Linked DNA regions of Homo sapiens: regions 1 and 2 are each linked to region 3. Evidence: fine-mapped expression QTL. A gene starts in region 3. Each other region holds a variant in brackets. All regions are shown on one strand. Distances are from middle to middle. Region 1 overlaps MGLL (monoglyceride lipase). Region 2 overlaps MGLL (monoglyceride lipase). Region 3 holds the start of ABTB1 (ankyrin repeat and BTB domain containing 1).

What was found. PIP is the estimated chance that this variant, and not a neighbour inherited with it, causes the effect.
Region 1: its variant is the best candidate, but not a certain one, in a credible set for the expression of ABTB1 in whole blood (TOPMed, PIP 0.88).
Region 2: its variant is the best candidate, but not a certain one, in a credible set for the expression of ABTB1 in skeletal muscle (GTEx, PIP 0.84).

What each region holds. Positions count from the first base shown.
Region 1 is chr3:127,707,872-127,712,871 of GRCh38, reverse strand. MGLL (monoglyceride lipase) reads left to right here. Exons shown (of 8, transcript NM_007283.7): 6 at 2,207-2,296. Among named protein-coding and RNA genes, the nearest start is that of ABTB1, 37 kb to the right of the region's middle. The variant G/C (reference allele first, on the strand shown) is at 1,927.
Region 2 is chr3:127,757,478-127,762,477 of GRCh38, reverse strand. The region is part of intron 3 of MGLL (monoglyceride lipase); the gene reads left to right. Among named protein-coding and RNA genes, the nearest start is that of MGLL, 63 kb to the left of the region's middle. The variant A/G (reference allele first, on the strand shown) is at 2,655.
Region 3 is chr3:127,668,332-127,676,025 of GRCh38, reverse strand. It overlaps ABTB1 (ankyrin repeat and BTB domain containing 1), which reads right to left and starts at 3,074. Exons shown (of 12, transcript NM_172027.3): 1 at 2,945-3,074; 2 at 1,573-1,635; 3 at 1,426-1,481; 4 at 1-56. The coding sequence starts at 3,000. PODXL2 (podocalyxin like 2) reads right to left here. Exons shown (of 8, transcript NM_015720.4): 5 at 7,429-7,585; 6 at 6,824-6,885; 7 at 4,413-4,592; 8 at 3,224-3,758. The coding sequence ends at 3,546. RefSeq lists silencers at 2,703-2,962, 3,103-3,702, 3,713-3,792.

The DNA of each region.
Region 1 (5,000 bases), 38 kb before region 3:
GTTTGAAAATACCCCAGTCCTTGTGCAGAGTTCCCAGAATTCCAAGTTTTCCTTTCCCAGGCTCGTTCTTGGAGCTGGCCCATGATACTAGCTGGACTCTTGAACATTCCTGACCCATCACGGCCACCCTTCGAGGCTTCCGATTATGCAGACACACCATGCCCCTGCACAGTGCTCAAAGTCAGGCTGCCGCATGCTTCTATACTAGACAGTCAAAGTCGGAGCCCAGGGCTCAGCAAAGCACCTGGCACAGTGGCGGCTGCAGAATGAGATCTGCTTGCCTGGATGCCAAGGCTGGAGGGCAGTAAGCTTCGGTATCCTCAGAGGCAGGGGGCTGCCACCTTTGCACTAAGAAGGAATTACTGATTTCTACCATTTGAGAAAAGGAGTGTTGACCACATGGAACTCCGAATAGGTTCATGCACATGGAACAAAGCCCTTTAGGAGAAAAGCCCGTTTTTTGCTGTCTGCCTGATACTGGATGGTTGAGAAACAATCGTGGTGGGCAGTCACGCCACACTTGTGCGGGCCTAGGACACAGGAAGGTTTAGCCCTGGCCTACAGGGAGGGTGGGCAAGCACAGCAATCTTGTCCCCCAAAAGAACATCAGTGGCCGCTGGTGCCAAGACCCACGGGAAGGTTAGAGCTCTGGGTTACATTTGTGGAGAGAGACACAGACAGCGGCAGAGACAGAGACGTAGTAATCCAGGCTGTGTGGCATAAGAAGATAAAGCGGCCCCCCAGCCCGGGGCCCCTCCCATGGACCTCATGGTACCGAGCCTCCATTTTCTCATCTGTTCAGTGAGGATGAAGCCTCATCTCCCAGGGTTTTTGCAAAGACAGGGAGACTGGCCGGGCGCCGTGGCTTACGCCTATAATCCCAGCACCTTGGGAGGCCGAGGCAGGCGGATCACAAGGTCAGGAGTTTGAGACCAGCCTAACCAACATGGTGAAACCCCGTCTCTACTAAAAATACAAAAATTAGGCAGGCGTGGTGGCACGCGCCTGTAATCCCAGCTACTCAGGAGGCTGAGGCAGGAGAATCACTTGAACCCAGGAGGCAGAGGTTGCAGTGAGCCGAGATTGCGCCACTGCACTCCAGCCTGGGTGACAGAGCAAGACTCTCAAAAAAAAAAAAAAAAAGATAGGGAAACTGTGCCCAATGCACCAGAAGGTGGTTCCTCGGTGCCTGTGAGTGCCCTTGCCCTCTGCCAAGGGTACTGAGCTACGTGCCCTGTGCCCTTGATGTACACTGAGAATTCACTGCTTGCCACCTTCCGTCCAATTCTAATTTCAGCATTTCACAGCTCACTTTTGAAATAGCATCTTTCATCCCCAAATGTCTGTGCACATTGCAGAAATGAAAACAGCCCCTCTCTGAAGGCAGAAGTGTGAGATCCGGGTTCTCTGTTTTCCTGGGAAAACAAGAGATCCAGAAGGAGAGATGGGGGAGGGGGTGGGAAGGTTTGGGCCTCAATCAGGCTCAAGTTCAATGAGCATGTGTTAAGCTCCTGCTGTGTTCCCTGGGCTTTTGCACACAGGGTGTTATTCACCTTCCCCGTGGTCCTCTGGGGGAGGGTCAAGGTCCCACTGGCAGCTGAGGAAACGGAGGCTCAGCGATGTGGAAATCCCAGCCCATGTTCACGAGGCAGCAGAGCTAGGAATCAAACCCAGCAATCCTTCCCTCTGCCACACAGCCTCCTCATCGAGCTGGTGCTATTTCTACTTCCACCCGAGAGAAATGGACGCACACTTTCTCTGTGTGGCTCCTGTGGGCCCTTCCGCACTGCCCTGCTTCGTGCTCAGTTGATCTGTGTGATTCTGCACCTGCCGTGTATTTTCAGTACCCCAGAGAAATGGCCAGAGCTCATCCCAGGCAACTCTTGCCAGTGATGCAAAATTACAACCCATGAGCGATCATGGGGA[G/C]GGTATAGAGCGGGCAAAATTCAGACGTGACTTCCCACCTTGGGCGCAGCGGCTGCCTGGCCAGCTCCCCCAAGGTGGAGCAGAGCCAGGCTGAATAGAGGCTGAGTCAGAAGGGAGAGTCCTTGGGCATGCAGGCTTAAGGACGCAGGCTTGGGAGACGAACCTGGCTGATGTTCAGTTTGGGCATCACTCTCCTTAATGTACTGTAAACTGTCACTGCGGAAGAGCCGGGTGTGGATGCCACTTGTGCTCACAGCCCTTGTTTTCCCTCCCCGGCTAGGTCCTTGCTGCGAAAGTGCTCAACCTTGTGCTGCCAAACTTGTCCCTCGGGCCCATCGACTCCAGCGTGCTCTCTCGGAATAAGACAGAGGTGAGAGGCTTTCCGAAACCCCAGGGGTAGCTTGGGTGGCTGCCCCCATGGGGAATCAGAGTTTTGGCTCCAGCCTTGGCATTCTCTGCTGCCCTTTCACCGAGGCCCTGTGCAAAGTGACAAGGACACAGTGGTGCATTAGACATGGTTGGCTTCAGGTTTGGGTGAAAAGGGTGGGTTGGCTATGATGCCTGAGCTGTGTTCTAAACATGAAAGGAGCCAACAGTGGAAGTTGAGTGTGTGCCAGTCAAGTCTCTTGGTTGCAAGAGACAGAAACCTACATCAAAGTGATTTAAGCAAAAGCAGGGATTTTGTGGTGAATGGAACTGAAGGCTTCAGACATGGCTGGATCCAGGGCGTTGAAAGTCTTATTCTCCATCGGTCTCTTCCCAGCTTTCATCTCCCCTGGTTTGGCTTCATTCCCAGACAGGCTTTCCCCCAGTGAAGGCCAAGAGGGCCACCAGCAGGTTTACCTGAGCAACCCCAGTGGAAAAACAGCACCTCTTTCCAGCAAAAGTCTCAGGGCTGATTCTTACTGACTGATTATCCAGGCCTGGATTATTTGTCCAGGAAAGGGGGGTAGTATCATCCCCACCCACTGAGAGTAGAGGAAGGGGATCCCTGGGGGTAACTCAGAATAGTGGTAGCAAAGGAAGGACAGACCCATATTGCAGATGAGCAAACTGAGCCCCATAACGTGGGATGACTTGCTTGGGGTCAGCCAGTGGTGAGGCTAGCCTGGGAACGTGGGTAGGTGTGGTCTCCAGCTGTGCTCTGTCTGGGTATGGGAGTGGGCTTGCAGTTAATGGGTAGGAAGCATCCAGAAGACACCAGCATTATCTTCATGATTAAGCAAATAAGTTTGCCACTCTTCTGCCTCAGTTGCCCTCTTGCTTTAGGAGTTTGAAATCATTGAATCACTGGCTCCCTAAATCACTGAATCACTGGCTCCCTAAAGGGCCCTGGGAAGTGGAGTGCAGTGCTCTAGCATTCTGGGGATGTTCCCAGACTTCCTTGGGCTGTTGGACTCTAGCTTCATTATAAACTGTGGCCTTCTGGCCCTCTGAGTCACTTAGAGAGTGGGCAACTCAAGAGGAATAGCCCGTGGTGTGTAGGAAAGAGACTTTCTAGATCAGGGGTTGAAAACTCCTAGGCCTCTGAGGGCCAGCTGCTTAAAAATCAGACTGGTGAGAGATTCTAGCAAGCCATGAGGCCTGTGTGGAGCCAGAGGGCATCTGATCCATCCAACCCATCCACATTAATTTAAAATTCTAATATAATTTGGTTTTTAAAGCCCACAGTGCCTCCCAAACCTACATCTTGGGGCCAGGTTGGACCCATTAGGGACCAGTGTGTGGCCCCTGGTCTTTCTGAAAGAATATCTGAATAAAGGAAAAAAACTTTAATTCCAAAAAGCAGATTCATACAGTGAAAGAGCACAACTTTAGGACCCAGAAAGACCAAAGCCAAATATACACTGTTTGATTTAATCCTGACATGAATGAGATCGACATTAACCCCATTTCACAGATGAAGAAACTGAGGCTTGGAGAGGTTAAATAACCTGTTCAAGATTGCACAACTAGTCAGGGGCAGAGATGGGATTTTAGCCCATTTTATTCAAAAGTCCATGCTTTGGTGCCTCCCTCTAGCTAGTAATTATGGTCATTAAGCTCTGTTTCCTGTTTTACAATTGATTGCTGGTCCACGCAGCCCATGGCCATGGCCATTGCTCTCTGTACGGGACCCACTTTGACAGGGAAACTCAGTGTGGGGCAGGGGCTCCTGCACCTGCCTGCATCCCTCATAATGGCTCTAGCTTGAAGGTGTGGTGTCTGGTAAAACCAGTGATCTTTGTAGCGGCAGTGCCAGGACAACAGTAGGTTTGAGAAAGATGGGTCAGGGAGGGAGGGGCCTCCCTTTAAGACAAAGCACCCAGGTGCAAATCCACGTTGTTTATCTGAACACCTGAAAATACACGGGCAAAGAGGAAGAAAAAAACAGGTACTAAAAAGAGATTCCAAACCCTCTCTATTTAAAAGCATCCAATTTCAGATCTTTTCTCTCCTTTTTGCAATAATGAGAAATTCTTCGGTCTTACTCAGGATGGAAGCACCTGGTGGGGCTCCCCTCCTCTGTTCCTGCCCCACCCACAGCCCCCATCCGAGCCCTCCTGCCTCGGGTTTCTGGCTGCCCAGGTCATCAGTTATTTAGAAACACTAATAAATGTCCCTGCTGAGAAGACATGAGGAAGGGAGGTGGCCGGTCAGCCCCAAGGCTGGACTGCAGTTGGAAAAATCAAGAGCACGCCTTTCCCTCCCTCGCCTGCCGCAGCTCTGCGTCTCCCTCTGAACGTTCTGCTGAGCTTTAAAAATAGCAACGCTGAGGGGAAAATGTGTTGGGAAAGGCATCTAACATCGGGGTGTCTTGAGGCACATCTTTAGCTAAGACATTTCCCATGGAACCCTGCAGCTATAAAAGCCTCAAACCAAAAAGAAATGTTTGCCTAAGAAGCTGAGTGAGCAGGACTATGGGGGATGGGCCACTGGCCGGGAATCGAGGGTGCAGGGGCCTGGGACTCAAGAGTGCACAGGCCCCAGGGAAGATCTGGAATTCTGTCTGAAGGGAAGCGGGTTAGCTCTGTTGCCAGAATGTCAGAAGCAGAATGTTTGGTGTTTGCTGTGACAAGCATTCTCACAACCCA
Region 2 (5,000 bases), 88 kb before region 3:
GGACTCCTCAAAGGAACTTTAAAATAGGTAGGGTCAGGGCTGGCTTCGCTTTGACACAGCCCTTAAGAAAGGCTGGGGGTGGGAATGGGCAGAGTCTGTCTTGTGAGCTGAGCCTTTCTGAAGTGGGAGCTCAAACAGCATGTGACCAGGAAATGGCTGGCCCACCAAGAACTAAAAATAAACGGCTGTAATGCTGCCAACCGTCAGGGCAGGCGGGGAGGACGCGGAGAGCTCAGGAGCAGAGCCCAGTGGGGTCCTGCTCAAAATGAAAAGAGAACCGCATGCCGGCAGACAAGGTGCTTCATGTGTCACTAACGTGGAAGCAATAAACCACGACTGCACTGTCAGGCTGCCCTTTCTGAAGGGCTTCATATTCTCTATTTCATTTCATTTCATTTTCCAAGGCAGGTAAAGCCATCGTCATTTTCATTTTACAGGAGAGACAACAAGCCAGGAGTGGTAGAGCCAGGATCAGAATTCCAAATCACAGATCTATTAAGCTGTGTTCTCGGTGTCTTGGTTTCTCCCCTGTTAGAGGTAAAGGGAGAAATTAAAAAGCAAACAGAGGACCCAAACCTTGCATGGGATCCTCAGATGCAGTCACAACTCCCCGGCAAGTGCGCTGGGTGCACTACGCATATTTAGTGCTTGTCTGGGCATTTGAGAATGAAGCTCTGCCTGGAGTCCCTCCCTGAAGAGCTGGGGTCCCAAGGGCCCGGCCGATGAAGCGAGGAGCCGAACGTGCCAGGAGGGAGGCAGCCTGCGTGGCAGTCCAGCTCTGCCCACGGCCGGCTGTGCGCCAGCCCTCTCTGTGCCTCCGTGTCCTCACCAGCCAAAAGAGGAAACCCACAGTACCTTTGTGGTGGACTGGTGTAGCCCAGTCGCTTAGGGGAACACGTGGACACACACACAGAAGGCACTTGAAATGCAGCTTGAAGGGCAGTTTGCAGTCTCTGGTCCAGGCAGTGCAGAAGTGGCCTCTTTGACTGCTGTCTCTGAGTGTTCTGTGGCTTCCACCCTGGCTGTGGAGGTTAGTACTGCTTGCTGGAGAAGGAGGAGCCCTGGGGAGGCCTCCACCCTGGTCCCTCAAAGCTTCTCATCCCCACCCTAAACTAAGCCAGCACCCCCAACACAACACGGTGGCTCTAACAAGACACAGCAGCAGGGGAGAAGCCAGTTTGCCCAGTGGGCCCTGGAAAGTGACGCAGTCTGGTCATCAGCACCCCAGAAATCCCTCCCAGGCGGTGGGCCCCTTGATAGTGCGAAGGGTCCGGATGGCCACAGGGAATTGTACGTTATCTGAACACAGCAACTGGGGCCTCTGCTCTCCGCATCTGTGTGGCACCTTGCTCATAGCAGCTGCTCAGTGAAGGCTTGCAGAATTACAAGGCATTTCACAGAAATGATGGTTTCTTTGGATACGCTCAAGTTCACACTTGTGAATCCTGTATGTGTGGGTATGAATTTGGCCTGGAGGATGAGCCCTGTTTAAAGAAAATCAAATAACGCTTGCCCAGCTGGAAAAATCCATGACTTCTGTGCTAATAATTTTTTCCACGGATCACCCCATTTAATCCTACGGCAGCAGAGTAAGGCAGGCAACGTCCCTATGGAGGAAACAAGCTCAGAGATGCTGCCTGATTTATTCAAGCTCACAGTCATTAGGGGGCAAAGTCGGACTGAAATTCTTACACACTTGCACCTTGCTACAGTTTTAACTTTTGGGAAAATGCTTTGGGGTGCAGAGCCGCAGGTTCCATTGGACCAGCGCCCCCCAATCAGTGCTGTGCCTCTGAGCAGCTTGGCGTGGGGCACAGCCCCCAGGCGAGTGGCCCTGGGGTTTCTGCATCATCTGACAGAAGTGCCGCAGCGGCTCCAGGAATAGCTTGCGACGCGCAGTCTGTCAGGGGTGCCGTGCCAGCTCCTCACCTCGCCTCCTGCCAAGGCTCTGCTAGAAGATGCTCTGACTCCCAGAGGTGGCGCCTGAGCCTGGATGAGGGACAGAGCCAGCATCGGGGCTGACTGCAGGGGGAGAACAAGGTCCTTTCACCTTCATTCCTCAGCACCCACGTGCCCTGTGTGGCATGGTGTGAGCCCAGAGGGGTTGGTCCCCTGTTGACAAGTGGAGCTTAGCCCAGAGAGTTCTGTTATGTGAACCTGCTGGGTGGAGGCAGAGTGGCCTGGCCTACTCTTTATACCTGTGTGTCCAGGACAGTCACTTGACCTCTCTGAGCCTCAGATTTCCCATCTGTATGTTAGGCCTGAGGCTTCCTATGGAAACGTTAGCTCATAGGACCCCACACAAACTCAATGTCCCATAAATGGATGCTTCCACCCCTGTGTGGCTCTGCCCTTCCCTCCCGTCATCTTTCCTTTGCTTTTCTTTGAAAGCTGTGTGCACATCCAGCGCTCTCCCTGCTACACCACTGGCTTCCTTTCTCCAACGCAGAAAACCAAGCCGTCTAAGCAGGGCCTGCCCGCAAAGACAGTCAATGTGAGAGGCAGGGGCCAGCTGCCTCCTCCTCAGAGTCGTGGAGAAGTGCTGGATCATTCAGACCCCATAATCATAATTATTTCTCTCCTCAGTTATTGTACAGACGCCACCAGATTGGAAAAATCACTTAAAGGTTTTATTCAGTGGAAGCTTTCTTACC[A/G]AAAAAGGAGAATCATCTGAAGGCCAAAGGGACCGATTCCAAGGACCCTGTGTTGAGTGAGGGAGAAGGAGCTGGGCTGATCTGAGCAGGTAGGAGCTCTGCATCAGGCCACTCCTTCCTCCCAGTCCACACGAGAACCAAGAGTCTCTGAAGTCATCGGGATCTCTGGGCTCAAAGCATCTCTGTAAAGTGGCACTGCTTCTGTGAATTACATTCTCTCTTCCCTTCCTTGGAAAATGACCTCTAAGCAGGGGAAGGTGCAGTGAGACATGAGAACATGCCCACAGCTGAGATTTTTAAATGGCCGCAGGTGAACACAGACATCCCTCTTGAGCACGTGATTCAGAAGAGAGGCACACCCACCTCCAGTGAGCATCTACTGTGTACCAGGCACGGTGCTGAGAGCCTTGGTCACATCAGGTGTGGTAGGGGACCAAGGGAGGGGTAAGGACAGTCCCGCAGAGGTTGGAGATGTTAGCCAGGGTCACGCATAGCAGAGAGAAGGGTTGAGAGCCGCCTGACTCTGTGTCTCAGTTGCTGGGGTCACAGAATAGGAGAGCTGGTTTATAATAATGGACGCTGTGAGAAATAGCTGCCAGGGCCGGGCGCAGTGGCTCACGCCTGTAATCCCAGCACTTTGGGAGACCGAGGCAGGTTGATCACTTGAGGTCAGGAGTTCAAGACCAGCCTGGCCAACATGGCGAAACCTCATCTCTACTAAATACAAAAATTAGCCAGGCTTGGTGGCATGTACCTGTAATCCCAGCTAGCTACTCAGGACGCTGAGGCAGGAGAATCACTTGAACCTGGGAGGCAGAGGTTGCAGTGAGCCTAGATCACACCACTGCACTCCAGCCTGGGCAACAGAGCAAGACTCTGTCTCAAAAAAAAAAAAAAAGAAAAGAAAAGAAAAAAAAAAGAAAAAGAAAGAAATAGGTGCCAGGAGCCCCCAGAATATCCTTTCCTGTGAGGGTCATGTTTACAACTTACAGCCAGTGCACTTTTGCACATTTTCAAGAATGATATTTTTCTCCCTAGCAATTGCTTGTCATGATATGAAAAATCGACCCATTATCCCATTGTTTTTTATAACACATATCTGATTTTTAAAGACCCTTTTAAAGGGGAAGACAGAAAAGAAAATTACAGGTGACTTCCCCCATTCTCCTCGCTCGGTACAGCCGAATTGTTAGGAAAGGAGACTGGCACTTTGTCAGCACTAACAACGGAACACACCATTTAATTATACAAGGCTCAGGGGCTGCTCTAAGAGGGCCAAGCTGACCTGGGCTTCTGTCTAGCTTGAAAAACTTCTAGCTATTGACTTTTTGCAAGCTCCTTCACATCTCCAAGCCTCATTCGTGTATTTATTCATTCGTTCAGTCTATAATGTATTAGCTTGATGCCCAGTTACCAACTCCAGGCATGGTGCTGGGCACAGGAGATGCAGCTGTGAACAAAACAGACACAAGTCCCTGCCCTTGGCAGACAATGAGCAGCAATAAATGACTTTAGGGTATGTCCATTGGAGATAAGTGCCACAAAGCAAAATAAAACCTTGGAGGAGGAGGGCGGGGCAGTGGGGGCAGGGGGCCATGCTCAAGCTGCTGGCTCCACTGAGAAAGTGGTAGTTGAGCAAAGACCCAAAGGAGGCAAGGAGGAGCCTCACAGATGACCAGGGGAAAAGGGGGTGGCCAGTGCAAAGGTCCTGGGGCAGGAGGGTGCCTGACTCATGAACAGTCGGGAGACAGGAGGTGAGGTGAGAGGAGAGCACTGTAGGAGAGGAGACAGAGGTCGTGTGCAGCTGGCCACACAGGGCCCAGAGATCCTCAGTTTTCTCCTCTATAAAACAGGAACAGAAGCCCCCAGGCAGCTCCCGTACAGATTTGATGGAATAACATCAGCCAAGTACCTACAGGTGTGCTAGGTGCCCCACCAGTGTAAGCAAGTGTGCGTTTCTTCCCGGCACTCCTGTATCAGCAATCTGTTTACAAGGTGTCGATGACACGTGGCTGAACACATCTGGGTCAGGAGGACCCTGAGCTTGGATTCGGATCTACCCAGGTTGGGGTCAAGAAACACTCTCTCGGAGGCAGGTCCCCCAGCTTCGTGACACTGTCACAGCTTTCTTCATTGTCCCCAAGGTTCTTTGGGTGCTTTTTCTTTTAGGGAGTTCAATGAAGAGTTTCTTTCTCTGGTGTAGTCACTTCACTTGGAGTTACGATTCCTGCTGGAGTTGGCAACTGGGCATCTAGCTAATCTCAGTGTTCTTTGAAAGCGGAGAGTTCCAGAGCTAAGTCATCAATTTCTTGAAGCCAAAAGCCATCTCACTGGTTGTATATATGT
Region 3 (7,694 bases):
CAGTGCCCCATAGAGGCAGCGCTCACCATCGAAGGTGTTGGCCTCGCAGCGGGCTCCTGGGGGAGGCAGGGCTCACCAGTTAGCAGGGAAGGGGCCTGGGGGAAATTCTAATCTCCCTGTCCCTCCTCCCCACCTTCCCACACATGGGGCTCCGAATCTCTGGCGATGCCTTCCCAAATTACCCTGGGCCCACTCTGACCCCAACACCCTCCCAGTCAAGGGCTAGGCGAATGGGCACGTCTGTGTGCACTCACACAGGCACATACTCACTCACACGGAAGACAGACAACACAGAACGGAGAGCTGACTTGGTGGCTGGGCTTGTCCCACACACTGGAGCACAGCAGTGAACGAGACACAGGTCCCTGTCCTGCTGAACTTATACTCTAGTGAGGCAGGACAATCAACCCACTACCTAACGATGGCAGGGACTATTAAGAAAAACAAGCCTGGGCGTGGCAGCTCACACCTATAATCCAGGCACTTTGCGAGACCAAGGTAGGTGGATCACTTGGGCTCAGGAGTTTGAGACCAACCTGGGCAACATAGTGAGACACCATCTCTGCAAAAAAAATACAAAAACTTGCCGGGCGTGGTGGTGCACGCCTGTAGTCTCAGCTATTTGAAGATTTGAAGGGGCTGAGGCAGGAGGATCACTTGAGCCTGGGAGGTTAAGGCTGCAGTGAACCGAGATCACACTACTACACTCCAGCCTGGGTGACAGAGCAAGACTCTGTCTCCAAAAAAAAAAAAAAAAAAAAGAAAAAACCAAAATAGGAAGAAGAATGGCACTGAATGAAGGGAAGTCATGAAAGGTCACTCTGTAATGGTGGCAGCATGCAGAGACCTGAATGAAGGGGGAGTGGGCCATGTGAACGTTTGCAGAACGGCAGTCCATGCAGGAGGAACTGCAGGTGCAAAGGCCCTGGGGCAGGAACAGGGGCATGCATAGCACAGTGGAGCCCCAGCGAGGCCAGTGTAGCAGCAAGCAAGCAGCAAGCAAGCAGGGAGAGCCGAAGGAATGAGGCCAGTGGGAGGGCAGACCCTGTGGAGCCTTGGGCATGGCCAGGCAGGCTCACTGTATCCTAGAGGCAATGGGAACTTGCTGGAGGATTTTTAGCCGATCAGATTCATTGTGAAAAGATCAACTTGGCTGCAATGGCAAGAGAGAGGCAGGCACCGTGTCCGGGGAGAAATGCTGATGACTGGGCCCAGGTCGTAGAAGTAGAGATGGGCAAGGTGGACAGAGAAAAGGTTTTAAAGTAGCAATAATAGTACTTGCTGATTCGACTGGGTGGTAAGAGAGGAATCGTGGTGCTTTGCAAATGTGTATCAAGGCCTTTGAATGCACGCACGCATGCATGCACCCACACGCACACATGCATGCACCCACGCACACCCGTGAGCCGGGCTCCCTGCTCTCACCATTGGCCAGAAGGTAGAGTACCAGCTCCTCGTGCCCACACAAGCAGGCATAGTACCTGAAGGGAGGAAGGAAGTACAGGAGGCAGTCCTCAGTGCTGAAGGGGTGCACCAACCCCCACCCTCCCCACCCCTCTCTCCAGCACTCACAAGGGGGTGCTGTCCCACTTGTCCCGCACATTCACCTCCACGTCTCGCTGCTCCAGCAGGTACCTGGGCAGGAAGGAGGTCAGAGCCTGGGTCAGGACGGGTTCATGGTCTGAGAAAGAAGGCCCGTGGAAAGGAACGGAGAGAAAACATCCCTTTTGGTATGGGGAAGCCTCCCCCAGGTGAGGGCAGGTGACAGGCAGACCAGAGCAGGAGAGGCACTCAAGGCAAAGTGCAGGCAAGGATGTGGAGGTGGGGTCGAACAGGCAGACACTGTGTGCTATCAGTGCTGGGGGACGATGGGCTACAGGGACAGAAGCCAGAGCCAGTGCCGAGGCTGGACCTTTGGCCTTTCAGCGTTTGGGAGAGGAGGTGATGGAGCCTTCACTCCCACCAGAGCTCTCTACTGCAGGAAGAAGCTGGCCCTGTTAGAAGCAGGGAGCCCGGGAAAAAGCTGCTGCAGGCCTCCTGATGGTGTGGAGGGCACACAATTCTAGGAGGCAGGAGTCGCGGGATACAGCAACTGATGGGATGCGGAAGGTGAGCGAGGGGAGTCGCCAATGCTAATGCAGCCCCACTGAGGCGGGGGCAGCCCAAAGGAGGCCTCCAGGCTGCACCTGGAAGTGCTGTGAACCCACTCAGCGTTGACACTATGCACTAACTCTTGAGTGGCACGGGATGTCAGGGAGCGGCCCAGGGAGGCTACGGGAGTACAGCAGCCCGGCGCCAGCCCAGGGGAGGTGGAAGCAGTCAGTCAGCACCAGGTCAAGGGGGAGGAAGGGCCAAGAAAAAAGGAGGTCAAACGGGATAGTGGAAGCCCAAGGAGGGGAAGGGCCCCAGAACCCAACTGGGCACCCCTTCCCTCCGCGTCCGGCCCATGGAGGGGGCATCTCAGCGCCAGATTCACTTTAGCTGCGTCAGGAGTTTCCGAATCCTCAGGGACCGGAGGCCGATTATGGGCTCTAGGTGTTCCCCGCGCCAGGTCCAGAGAGCACGAGAGAAAGGGGCCACGTCTGGAGTCCCAGGCCTATACCCGCGCCCTGCGCCCGGGGGGTCTGACGTCCGGGCCCTACCAGGGCGAACAGTGGCCCGCCTTCTCTCCGCCCACTTCTGCGCCTTCGGGCCTCCGCTGAGCAGTCCCTTCTTACAGGAAGCCCTCCGGGGGTCAATGGCCATCAGTGTCCCCGCCCCAGCGCGCTTCCGCTGGGGGGCTGCGGCGGGGGTCCGGGTGGTCTGCCCCGCGGGGGCGCTCCGAGGGCTGTGACCCGGCAGAGGCGCCCGCCTCTCCGCGGCCGCCCAGCCGCCCGTCCCAGGGCCCGAGGCGTTCCGAGGGCGGCCACCTCCCGCACCCTCCCCGGGACTGCGAGGTCCTCACCGCACTCGGCCCACATCCCCCTTCCTGCAGCTGGCGAACAGGTCGCTGGTGTCCATGGCGCGGAGGATGGTACCCGAGCCGAACGACCTCGGGCGGCGAAGCCGCGCACCCGGCGGATGTAAACACGCTCAGCCCCGCCCCGCCCCGCTCTGCAGCGGCGTCCGGAGGACCCGCCCGCCCCGGCCTCCCCGCCCCGCGGCCCCGCCCCTGCCCCGGGGTGCCCCGCCCGCCCCGCCCCGCCCCAACCCCGGAAATAAGAATGAGTCAAGAAGGCAGACGCGCTGGGCCCGGCGTGGTCTCCGGGCGGGTTTAATTGAGTCCCGGGGCGCAGGAAGCGCCGCCCGCCGCCCGCGGGGCCGGGGTTCAGGGGCGGGAAAGCGGGGCCAAGGCGGGCTTTGAGGCCTGCCCCTCGGGCGGGAGTGAGGGAGTTGGTCCGAAGCCGCCGTGTGAAGTCGGGGGAAGCGGGAAGGAGCCCGCGCCGAGGGCCAGGCCGCGGGGGCGGCCCGGGTAGGCGCGGGGCTGGTGCGGGCTCCGGGCCGTCCGTTTCGGGGTCCACCTCGCTTGGTCCTGGCGGCCCACTCGGCCTGCGCCTCGGCTGCGCTCACAGGTGCGTGTCCTCCTCGAACACGTCCGAGTCCTCGGGGTCCCGCTTGCCCCCCATGAGCGCCCCCCAGCTCCCCGGGCCGTTGAGGGCCCCGCCGCCGTTCAGGCTGGGGTGCTTCTCCTGCATCTCCGACTGGCTGTCGCTGGCCACGTCCAGCGTGGGGTTGTCGTGGCAGCCGTTCTCCACGAAGCGCAGCTCCTCGCCGTGCGACTGAGGCGGGGTGGGGAGAGGCCATGGGCGAGCGAGCCAGCCCCCGGACAGCGCCAGGCCCGCGGCCGTCTGTGCAACCCCACCCAGGGGGTTCCCGCGGCACCCTCCACAGGTGCCAGATCCTTCTTTTCTGTTGCTGCAGCTCAACTCCTTTCTCAAAATAAACCTACTAGTCGTTGGCACTACAAAGCCCCGTGGCCTCCCTGACGTCATCGATCCCCCAACAGCCCCCTAAGAAGACTCCACTTGCGAGGTGGGCAGGGAGCATCGCTAGGGCTCTGCTCGCTTCCTCCTGGGGAGGCCTCTAGGCTGCTGGAGCCTCTCCTTGATCCTTGGGCACCACCAACGCAGGGCCTGCCTCTGGTGAGGTATTCAGGTGCTCAGGCCCTGCAGTGCCTGCGCCGGAAAGGGGCTGGTGGTGCCAGGGAGGGGCCCCCTGGTGGGGCTAGCAGCCCCCTCACTCCCTGCACCTCTGGCACCTGTCCTGGGGCTGGTGCCCTGCAGAGCAGTCAGCAGTGCTAGGCTGACCAGCTGCTTCACCCACGGGACCCTGTGCGCCCAGGAGAGTCACTGCCTCCCCTTGCAGATGAGGACACCTATCGATGGGCACTCTCCTCTCAACTGGCCCCCAGCCCCACCTGTCCCCACACTCACCACGTGCTTGAGCTTGGGCAGCCGGCGCTGCCAGCAGTTGTAGAGCAGGCCAAGCGCAATGATGATGATGCAGATGGCCCCAATGACCACCAGCACCACGAAGAGCGTGCCGTAGTCGCTGCGCACCTGGCTGGCCCGCGCCTGGCAGCTGCTGGTTGTGGAATAGTTCTGGATGCCAATCTAGGGGTGGGAGGGGCCAGTTTCCTCAGCTGAGGTCCTGGGGTGCCATGGCTCCTCTGGGGTGGTTGCATTGGGCTCGGGTGGGGATGGGGGAGCAGGCTTAGAAGGTGCTGGCACTCCCGGCTCCTGAAGTTCCCTGGCGCCTGGGCTTGCCTCTACCCCATGCCCATCCCGTTTGCCTCAGTACACCTGGAGGCCTCTCCACCCCATGCCCATGTTCCCAGCCTCCTTCACATCCCACCATAGCTTCTGCCCCAGCCGCTGAGTCTGAGCTCACTGTGGCCCTAGGCCTCCAGTGAGAGTGGACCCATGCTGCTGGACACCATCCAACTAGAGAGAGTGCCCACACCTATCCTAACTAGTTAGAGAGACAGGAGATGTGAGCCCCCCACACATCCTCCACCATACAACCGCTTCCACCTCGGTGGGGAGGGGTGGACCAGTCAGCTTCCTGATGCCAGGGCCGGTGCAGGGAGGGATACTGAGGGCATGCAGGCCACATGGGGGGCCACCCCGGCTGCCCAGCTTCCTCCCTTCCCATGGCGTGTTCACTGCTGGCATGTAGCTGCCTGCATCCCTCCACGCTGCAGGTTGTCATGGTCAGTCCTGCCTTCTCTGGCCAAGGAGATCGGCGCCAGGGGCCAGGCAGGTGCTATCTCCACAGATCAGCATCTTAGCAGAGAGAAGCAGGAGGGCGAGCACCACCAGGGGCTCCTCAGGTGAGGGATCAGGGCAGTTCCCAGTGCTGAGGCCTAGGTTGCACCAGGCCCCCTTTCTGAGTTCAGGTTGCAGCTCTTCCCCGGTTTCTGTGAACCACCCGTGTATCTCCAGTACTTTTCTCAATTTTTTGTTATCAAGGGTCAGTTTTTCTTGCTAGATTCACCTGAGTATATTTCCAAAGACCCAGCATGACTTTTGGCCAAGTCAGTGTGAATTAAGTGACCAGTAACGCCAGAATACTCAGGGGCAGCGAAAAGCAGGGGGAGGACTGTATAAAAGGTCAAGGTTAGCCCACACTTCCACCAGCAGCCCCACTGTTCATGGACCCACGATTCCAGAACTGGGAAGGGCCTCAGTGGCCCTCCAGGCAGTAGAGCAGTGTGGTGAAAGGCCCGGGCTCCGGAATCAGGCTTCCTGCAAAGCCTGGCTCTACCGCTTACTGCTGGTGCCATCTCAGACAGGTCACCTAACCTCTCCCGCTTCAGCTCTCATCTTCCATGGGGACACCATTGGTACTCAACAGGTGCCTCACTTAACCCTCACAACCCCATGGGGTGGTGGCGAGGACTGAGGGAGAGAGCCTTGCACAGTGTGGTGCTCAGTGGGCATTCGACATGCTCACCAGAAAAGCACCACCACCAGGGCCTCTGCTCCCCTGGCATGCAAGGATGAAGAGGCGGCCAGCATTATACCACTCATCTCTCCTGCCAAAAATGGCAGCACCTTCGGGAGTGGAGAGGGCTGATGACAGGGCACTGGACTCTACAGTGAGCAAAGGCAGTTTTGGTGGAGATGGTGGCTGTCCTCAAGAAGTGAGATGAGGAACAGAAGGACCCCATAGGCAAGGTGGTGTGAGGAGCAGGACTGGGGGACCCTGCCATCCCATCCAAGCTTGTGCGGCAGCTGGGTAGGAGAGGTTGATCGGGATGGGCCAGGCAGCCAGCAGACTGCACTGGGTGGGGGCACCTCCTAAGATGGCAGGGCTGCCTCCTGGCCCCCAGGCGCCGCATCTCACCGCAGCAGGAGCGCAGGGCCTGGCCGTGCAAGCACCAGTAGATTCACACGTCCACGCCAAGTCACATGTCCAGGTCTCCCAGGCTTGCTCTTTTGGTTTCTGGAACCCATCATGCTCGCCCCTCCCACCAGGCAGCATGGTGTCTCTGCCACTGTCTACCCAGAAAACTCCCAGTTAACCCTCACTGCTCCCCAGACCCTTCCTCTCTGGGCCCTCTCCTGACTGTCAGCCTCTTAGCACAGCCCCCACACCCCCATGGCCCCTTTCTGCCCCTGGCCATTGCCTGCATTGGACCTTTGGTTGGTAGCATGCACATGCACCGTCTTTCCCACAAAACCATGTCTAAGGGAGGCCTGAAGCAAGGAACCTGCCCAGAGCACGCTCTGTCTTATACTCCTTTGAACCTCACGATGTGGGCAGACTCCTGGGACTTTGAGGAACAGAGACAGGAGGGAGCATATTAGAAGCTAACAGGTCCAGGTCCCTGCACTCTTACCTCCTCCAGGCTCCTGCGGATGTCACCCAGCATGGAAAGGACATCTTGAGTGGGCACCACCCCTGGGGGGTAAGAAACACCACTATCAGTGTGACCATGGCTGAGGTGCGTGCCCCTCCAAGGGCTCTGGCCCCGCTCTCCAACAGCTGGCCTGAGCCTCTGTCTCCCTTCCTGGCTCAAATTGCACACAGATCCTCAAGGCACATGCCTCCCCCTCTCTTAGACATGCTTTCCACTGCATCGATCTGTTAGAACATCGATTTGTATAACACCAGCCAGCCACTTGCGAAGCCCACACACTGCCTTCTGAACACACCCCTTCTCCCCTGCCACACCAGGTACAGTGTCCATTCATCTCCCACCTGTGCTGGACCACACCTGTTCCCCTGCCTCCTGTTCCCCATCCTTAATTCTCACACCCTCCTCCTTGTCCCCAGAACCCAAGCTGGTGGGTACACCTTGACCACTAAGCTAAGTAGCTCAAACTACTGTCCTGGAGTTCCAAGTTTCAAAGCCCTTATGCGTGCACTTTTTTCCCGTGACCCTCAGGGGCCGCCCGCCTCCCACTGCCCTCCTGGGCCCTCCCATCACCTGCCCTCGCTCACCCTGCTCGCCCACCAGTGTCATGAGAAGGTGCTGCTCCTTCTCGCTGGGCTTGCTCAGAGAGATGTGCCAGGCCCCATGGTGGCCACTGCCATGGCGGGGCAGCACCTCTTCCACCAGGGCCAGGAGCTGTGGCCCCCGGTGCTGCCGGAACACCTCCTACAAGGGCAGAAAGAGCCCCCCGTGTTCAGTGAAGGAAAGGGGCTCTACTGAGCCCTCTGCCTCTAGGCCCAGCCCCGTACTCACCCTCAACCCTCTGGCTGTTCCA